3 separate regions of the Homo sapiens genome follow, and all the other regions are linked to region 3. The links come from fine-mapping of genetic effects on gene expression. A gene starts in region 3. Each other region holds a variant in brackets. All regions are shown on one strand. Distances are from middle to middle.

Evidence for each region. PIP is the estimated chance that this variant, and not a neighbour inherited with it, causes the effect. A credible set is the group of variants that fine-mapping cannot tell apart.
Region 1: its variant is the best candidate, but not a certain one, in a credible set for the expression of SLC16A3 in whole blood (INTERVAL, PIP 0.80).
Region 2: its variant is the best candidate, but not a certain one, in a credible set for the expression of SLC16A3 in whole blood (INTERVAL, PIP 0.87).

What each region holds. Positions count from the first base shown.
Region 1 is chr17:82,174,864-82,177,615 of GRCh38, reverse strand. The region is part of intron 10 of CCDC57 (coiled-coil domain containing 57); the gene reads left to right. Among named protein-coding and RNA genes, the nearest start is that of CCDC57, 37 kb to the left of the region's middle. RefSeq lists an enhancer at 1,693-2,482. The variant A/G (reference allele first, on the strand shown) is at 1,633.
Region 2 is chr17:82,296,339-82,299,090 of GRCh38, reverse strand. No RefSeq gene overlaps it. Among named protein-coding and RNA genes, the nearest start is that of LINC01970, 4.9 kb to the right of the region's middle. RefSeq lists an enhancer at 523-1,154. The variant C/T (reference allele first, on the strand shown) is at 1,109.
Region 3 is chr17:82,227,422-82,230,173 of GRCh38, reverse strand. SLC16A3 (solute carrier family 16 member 3) reads right to left here and starts at 1,132. Exons shown (of 5, transcript NM_004207.4): 1 at 1,068-1,132. RefSeq lists silencers at 667-716, 727-886, 1,007-1,326, 1,487-1,626, 1,677-1,756 and 1 more.

The DNA of each region.
Region 1 (2,752 bases), 53 kb after region 3:
AAGTGGTATGAAGAATGTTCCTAGCTCGTCCTTCATTCATGTAGTTTTTACTTATTTATTTTGAGACACGGTCTCGGTCTCGCTTTGTTGCCCAGGCTGAAGTGCAATGGTGCAATCTCAGCTCACTGCAATCTCCTCCTACCCCTAGGCTGAAGCAATCCTCCCGTCTCAGCTGCTCCAGTAGCTGGGACCACAGGTGCGCATCACCACGCCTGGCTAATTTTTGGAGTTGTTTTTTTTAGACAGAGTTTTGCTCGTGTCACCCAGGCTGGAGTGCAGTGGTGTGATCTCTGCTCACCGCACCCTCCGCCTCCCAGGTTCAAGTGATTCTCCTGCCTCAGCCTCCTGAGTAGCTGGGATTACAGGCATGTGCCACCATGCCTGGCTAATTTTTTGTATTTTTAGTAGAGACAGGGTTTCTGCATGTTAGGCTGATCTCGAACTCCTGACCCAGGTGATTCGCCTGCCTAAGCCTCCCAAAGCGCTCAGATTACAGGCATGAGCCACCACGCCCGGCTAATTTTGTATTTTTAGTAGAGATGGGGTTTCTCCATGTTGGTCAGGCTGGTCTTGAACTCCCGACCTCAGGTGATCTGCCCACCTCGGCCTCCCAAAGTGCTGGGATTACAGGCGTGAGCCACCATGCCCGGCCTGGTTGCTAATCTTAACTTTAGCCAAGGCAAATGCCAATTCAGTTACTTACCTAGGGATAGGTCTCAGGCTAAAGACTGCTCTCTACCATCCTAGAAGCAGGAAAAAAAAAAAAAACCCTCATCTTCCCTGTTGGAAGTGAGTGCAAACTCCATAAAGGAGTTACCTGCCTTCCATCATCATGAAGCAGGAGAAACTTGCCTTCCTTGTTGGAAGCAAGTAAAACTCCAAAAAAAGGGAGTTGTACCGTTGGGGTGATCAGACCCAACACCAGGTCATGGGGGCTACGAAGTCCAGCAGAGTCAAAGGAATGAGACAAGAGTACATAGGGTGGGTCCAGGGGGCCCACGCTGGTGTATGGAGGCTGCAAAGGCCCCCAGCTCTGGGAGCCCACACTGTTTATTGGTAATCAAGTAAAGAAGCAGGTAGTGAGGACGTGTGGCTGTGGGGGTAGACAGGTGAGGGCGTGAGGACGTAGGGGTAGAAAGGTAGCGGTGCATCAAGCGTAGCTGTGACGGTTTCGCATATGCTCCGCTACTTGAGGTAAGGGAGAACAGGTTCTTCTAATTCAAGATAAAATCAATTTATGATCTTGGGAGAGCAAGGAGCAAGGGGCCAGCAAGTCTGGACACAATTCCAGAGGCTAGAAGGGGTTTTATGCCCTGAGCCCTGGGTTCTTTCCAAGCCACGAGGGGTTTTATGCCCTGAGCCCTGGGTTCTCTCCAAGCCACCAGGGGTTTTATGCCCTGGGCCCTGGGTTCTCTCCAAGCCACGAGGGGTTTTATGCCCTGGGCTTAGACTGTAGTGCGGCAGGGCAGCCTTCCACCCATTGGCACAGAGCTTGGTGTTCCAAAGGTCATGAGGGGTTTTAGACTCTGGACCCAGGACATGTTCCAAGACTCTTTTACATTATGTCAGACAAGCAAGCCCCGCCTCAGCTCTTCTGCCAACATTGTACAGCAAAATAAACTTTAGATCTTG[A/G]CCAAATTTGGGGAGATCAGGGATTCTCTGGAGGGGATGCTCCCAGACCTCGGCAAATTGTCCTGTTGGTTTGAGCCATAAAGTTAGCTCATTCCAGTACCAAGTACCGATAGGAGTTTTGTCAAAGGTCAGAGGCATCTCCACTCAGAATCTCCCTGTGGTTACCAAAATGTGAACCCAGAAAATCTCAGACAGGTCTCAGTTAATTTAGAAGGTTTATTTTGCCAAGGTTGAGGATGCGCACCGGTGACACAGCCTCAGGAGGTCCTGACGACGTGTTCCGAGGTGGTCAGAGCACACCTCGGTTTTACACATTGTAGGGAGACAGGAGACATCAATCAACATATGTAAGATGAACAGTGGTTCCATCTGCAGAGGCGGGACAACTCCAAGTGGGGAGGAGGCTTCCGGGTCATAGGTAGGTAAGAGACAGATGGTTGCATTCTTTTGAATTTCTGATGAGCCTCTCCAAAGGAGGCAGTGAGATACGCATTCATCTCAGTGAGCAAAGGGTGACTTTGAATAGAATGGGAGGCAGGTTTGCCCTGAGCAGTTCCCAGCTTGACTTCTCCCTTTAGCTTAGTGATATTTTCCTTTCACACTGCCGAGCCCTCTGAGCCTTGCTTGCCGCTGTGGTGGGCCTGCTCAGCCAGTGAGGCCAGGCAGCCAGCACCCTCAGCGCGTCCTGGGACATAGCCTGGTAAGCCTCTGGGCACTCGGTATCCCGCTCTGTAACTGGCCAGGTGGAGCACGGCCTTCCAGGGTCTACCCCTCATGCGACTGTTTCTCCAGGAGAATTCTTTCTTCCTTTTGGTTCTACCATAAATATTTTCCCACGCCATTACAATTCTTCACGAACAGAATCTAAATGGCTGCATGTTTTATCAAGCGGCCACACCATAACGCACCTAGCGATTTTCTTACCAATGGTCCTTCATGTTGTTCGCCATTGTGATCACGGCACTGCGGTGGGCAGTTTCCTGTTGTTGTACCCAGGCGAGTTAGAGAAGACGCCACACTCTGAAACGAATTGAGTCCTTTATTTAAGCCGGCAGCCAAAGAGACGGCTAACGCTCAAAATTCTCTCGGCCCTGAGGAAGGGGCTTGATTAACTTGTATA
Region 2 (2,752 bases), 69 kb before region 3:
CCCACATTCAACTCCCTGCAGGGCCCGAGGCCACCGTCCAGTGAGGGGCATGCCCTGGGTCCCGTCCTCTGGGACTTTACCAACATTCGGTCACTGTGGATGCCTGGAGCTCCAGGGCTTTTGCCAACAGAGTGGAGAGCTCCTCCTTCTGAACACGGTCTCCAGTCCCATCTCCCAGACCTCCGGCTTGTCACCCCAGGCCCTTCGGGAGTGAAAATCACGACCCTGCCCACTGGGCCCGTCTGCAAGGCTTAAGCCAGCGTTCTGCAGGTGGACAGTGGCTGTCCCATTTCCCGGAGCTCCCTGGGCCCCCTGCCGCCCCCCTGGAGCCCTGGTCTGGCTGTTGGCAGCCTCCCCTTCTCCTCTGCTGCCTTGGAAGGTGTGGGAGCCTCTGCGGGGTCCCGCCTCTCCCTCATGCCACACTCTCCCCTCTGTGCCCTTGCTCAGCCCCAAGTTCCCTGGCCACATCGCAGGTGGCAGGCGCTGACATTGCCTCTGCCAGCCCCAGAGCCCGGCCCCGGGCACCTCTACCACCTACAGGGTCCTCAACTGTAGCTCTGACCCTGGAGGACTGTGGAAGGCTGCTCTGGCTAGAGTGACCCGCCAGGTCCAGGGATATCCTGTGGGGACAGGGAGGAGCTTGGAGCTGGGCGAGGGGGCGCCGTCCTCAGGAAGGTTGCCCAGCCGCTCGCTGCAGCTCTGAGGTTTGGCAAAGGTTCCACTCTGCCGAGCTGGTGTTTGTGTGATCATTTCCTTGCAATGACGTGGGTTCCACTGCTCACAGTCCCCAGGGCATGTCATCCCTCCCAGCCCACAACTTCCGGGTAGACGGTGCCGGGGGTTTACTGAAGGAGACAATCGGGGTGTTGGATGGAAACCTGCCCCTCAGGGCAAGCATCTGGGGTGGGGACACAGCACACGCAGCCTCCAGCAAACACGAGGGGCCGGAAGGGGCTCAGGCCCAAGTGCGCCCTCACCAGACCCGCTCCCCACACGCACGCACACAAGCTTCCTGCACACACACGCTCCCGCACCACACGCCCGCCTCAGCCCTGCGTGACTGTCCCCCAGCCTCGCCCCTCCCGGCCGGCCGTTCCTGTTCCAGCGC[C/T]TCCTCCTCCTCCCCAGCCTCGCTGGCTCTTGCTCAGCCCTTCTGGCCTCCGTCCAGGAGGAACCTGGGGCCAGGCGCTTCCCGCACCCAGCACAGCAGCTCTCACCTCACTGTACCGGGAACCGGAGATGAGTCTCTGTTTTCTGTTTCGTCAGCTTATGAGTAATTTATAAATGTAAAAACAAGGACAATAAGAAAAACCTTTATTAACATGTTTAATATGAACATAAGCAAAGAAAACCTCCTTGTACCTGTGGCCAGTAAGTTTGCAAGCACAGACATCTTAAGCAAAGAAGAAAGCCCTTCTGCTCACGTGAGTTGTGGTCCAGGGGCTGGTCACAAAATAGCGCGTGATGACATCCTTCCTGCCACCGACTGCAGGAGAAATCCACCGTCCGCTCGCTCACCGATCACCCACAGGACATTGTGTTCCCCCACCGCTGGCGTCACCGGCCGCGGGCTCCTGGCTCCGTCTGACTCATCTTCTCCCACCAGGTTTCTTTTTGCCACTGTGGGCAGCAGTTGGAAGATCCTGAGCTCTCGGCTGTGTTCTCATTCCACCTCGAAGAGGATGCAGGACCCAGGGCAGCTTGCGGCAAAGCTGCAGGGTGGCACGGTGTTGGGCCATCCTTCCGGATGCCCAATCTTAGGATTGCAGTCACTGTGGCATAGCTGGGAGCCATGGATGGGTGATAATTCCATGGATAATTCCAGGATGATGGACTAGCAGACATCTCATGATAGGAAAGATAAGACCACTGGGATACATAAGTCATATGTTTTACAGGTTTATGAGAAGTTTATCTGCCTGACAAGATGGGTTGATTTGTGCATCTTAGGTCAGGATAGGATGCGTTTTACTCTATTACAAAAGCAAAAGTAACTTTGTGTTCTCTTTGCACTTTGGAAGACCCATAAGAATATTAAACTCATGAGCTGCCAATCCTTATAACATAACTGCTCCAAAAAGCCATTCTAAAACTAGCTTCATGGGGCGCTGGGGGAAGGCGGGAAGGGAAGGAAGGATGGGAGGAGGAAGAGGAGGCTGAGGGGGGTGGAGAGGAGGGAGGGAGGGGCAGCCAGCAGCTGGCAGGTGGTTGGGAGCTCAGGTTCCGGGGCTTCCAGGCATCATGCAAGCTAATGTTTACATCCCCAGGCAGAAATCAGAATATAGGCTCTTTTCATATGTAACATTTCATTTGGCCTATTTGACAGAACGTTAAATAAAATGTCCACTAAACCTCATCACTACTGAGTTGCTAATACTCTCCTTGCAACATGACTGAAACCAGCAGTGCAGGGAGCTGCCCAGAACCAGGAGACCAGAAAGCCATCCTTAGCAACGTCATCTGCAACGCAATTTAAGTGGTGCCTTTTAGACCAACTGCACTGTTGGTATTTTACCCAAGGTTTTGGGGCACAGAGGTATTGGAAGATTCCTTTTCTGGATCATAAGCCACTTCAAAAACCCTCCTGTAATAGTTCATTTCCAATGAAATGCCATTAGGGCAGCATTAGTCACTGCAATCAAGGTACGGAACTCGCCTAAGTGTCCGTCAACGAATGAATGGATAACGAAGAATGCCGGGTCTGTCCCGCAGATCCTGGCCGACGGGTGAAATGAGTACTCAGACACAGGTATGC
Region 3 (2,752 bases):
ACCCTCCTTCAGCAGGGTCAGGCCAGCACCCACCTGACTTCCAGGCCTGTGCAGTGAAGCTGGGACCTTGGACTCCCCGGCCCCAACAGACACAAGACCTCCCACCCTTGTGCTCAGCATGGACAAGCCCCTGGGCCTTGGGGTGGGCCAACTGCCATTTCCCGCCCAGCAGGCCTGACTCTGGCCATCACCAGGAGAGGGACCCTTTCAGCCCATGCCTCTGGGACAGAGAGGAGGACAGCCGCCCCTCGGCTCCCCCCATCGTCCCTCACCGACTCCAGCCACCCCTGGAGGCCCCGGCCAGAGCTAAGGGCTTCCCTTCCACTCTGCGGCTCCTGTCTCTTGACTGGCCCAACACCCAGGGAGGCTCCTGACCAACCCACTTTTCGTATAGGGAAACTGAGGCGTGGGTTAGGAAGTGGGAGGCTACCAAAGGCTGCGCCTGGTTTTCCCACGAGCTGGGGGCCAGGGGTGGAGGTAGGGCGAACCCAGGGAGCCCAGCCTGGCTCTGGAGAGGGTCCCCCACTTCCCTGCACGGTCTCGGGCTGTTAGTCATTGCCCAAGGGCGGGTGTGGGTCGGGGAGTGTTCAGGGTGTTGCGAACAGGGGAAAGCGCCACGGCCCGAGCGCAAGTGCTCCCCACTCCCTCGGGGAGGCCACCCATACAGGGAGGGCTGCAGCAGCCCCACCAAATATAGCCCGCGCCCCCCGCCACCGCGGACCGAGCTATTTATACCCGGACCGGGCTTGGCCGCCGGCGCAGCCATCTCCTGGCCCGAGCCCAGCCCCTGAGGGCAGCCCGACGGGTGGGCGCCGGGCCGGACCGGGGGAGACGAGACTGGGCAGCCAGGTATGCGAGGGCGCGGAGGGGCGCGGCTGGCTCTCGGGAGCCCTCGGTGGGGCCCGCTCGGGGTCGAGAAGGCTAGTCCATGCCCCGGGCGCCCCCGGACCTGATGGACAAAGTGGGCGGGGTGGGGGTGAGAGCGCGGACCCCGAGGTCGCCCCCTTGCCCGGCACGGGGGAGCTCCTGGGCCCCGGCCCGCGCGCGAGCATCGCGGCCGCGCCTACCTGCCGCCGCTGGGCCGCCTCAGCCCGCCTCTCGCCGCCTCTCGCCGCCTCTGCCCGCCTCTGCCGGTCCGCTCCGCGCCGGGGGCGACTTTAAGTGCTCGGGTCGCTGGCGCGGCACGTCCCCCGCGCACGTCACCGCCTGGCGCCGCCCCTGCGCGCCCCGCCCGGACCCCGCGCCGCCTCCGGACGGGCTCCCGGGCCGCAGCTCCCCGACGGCGCGTCCCGCAACCCCGCCGGGCCCAGGGACCCCCCCAACCGGAACCGGCCCCGTCGGCGCCCCCGGCCCGGAGCTGGCCCGCCCCCTCTGCTCCTCGGGACTGGGTCTTCCCGGCCTCGCCTCCCCCGGAGTCCAGGCTCGCTTCGCCCCTCCGCCCCGCCGTCCCTCCGTTTCCCCGCCTCGGAGCGCAGCGCGGCAGGTCCCAACGTCCTCCAGGGCAGCGACCCCTCGCCCCCCAACGCCGGGGCCCCTTTGGTGGGGAGGTGCGCGCGGGTCCCGTGGGGTTCCGGCCGCCTGGCTCAGCTCCGGGGCCCACATCCTCCCTCTCTGAGGCCACGTCCGACCTGTCCCCCTTCAGACCTCCGCTTCCTCTCCGGTCCCGGTGCGGACGGCGGCTCTTCCTGGCTAGGGGAGCGGCCCGCGGCCTGCGCTGCCTGGATGTGGGGCACGGCCTCGCCCTCCCTGAACTTCCGTTTCCCCAGGTGGCTCCGCGCCCTGCGGGGCCCTACAAAGCCACCGACTCCAGCCCTGCGCCCCTGCCCCGCCCCTCTCGCGGCCCAGAACCCGACGCGGAGGCCGGGGCGGCTCCCACCTTCGGGGAGGCGAGGGCTGCCCACCCGCTGGACCTCGTGAGGTGCTTCTCCCAGCCTGTTTTCTCTCATTTGCAACATGGAAATAACGGGCCGCTTTGGGTGCTGAGGTTTGAGGTGGCTCCAGGGAGTAAGGCCTTTGTTGGCCTGGACCAAGGAGTCTAGTTGTCAGGGCCACCCTGCCAGGGCCACAGGAATGCTTTAACTGGCCCCTCCCGGACCCGGGGGCTTCGGGGACCGAGGCACTGGTAAGCCCGTGCCTTCACACACAAAGGAGGCAGGGGGTATCAATGGAGGACCCCTCCAGAGGGCAAGGGGAGGCCACCCCTGACAGTGAGGCCGTGTGGGCCTTGGCTCTCCATCTGCAGCCCAGCCTTGCGGGACATCAGGTCCAGTAAGGCCGCCTGTTCTTTCTATGTAATGTTACAAGCCCACCCTCCCGCTGGCATTCACAGAGGCTGGGTCTGGCCCTCACCCCTACCTGGGGCCCAACCACCCCCATCCCCAAACATCAAGATGAGGGCACGTGCCTGTGAGCAGAACACAGGCCTGTGGCAAGTGGTGAGGGGGCCTCCAACTTCACAGATGAAGACTCTACTTAGTTGGCCCGTGCTGCTCCCGCCCAGGGCAGGTGGTGCTCCCGCCCAGGGCAGGTGGTGCTCCCGCCCAGGGCAGGTGGTGCTCCCGCCCAGGGCAGGTGGTGCTCCCGCCCAGGGCAGGTGGTGCTCCCATCTTCCTGCACCAGGCGATTCATCAGTTTCTGAGGAGGGAGAGCAGCAGAGGGGTGCGAGGCACCGTGGACAGCTGCGGGAATGGGTCCCCTATGGGGTATTGCCTGCCGGGGAGGCGAGGGTACCGTGCTCCCCATCCCAGATTGT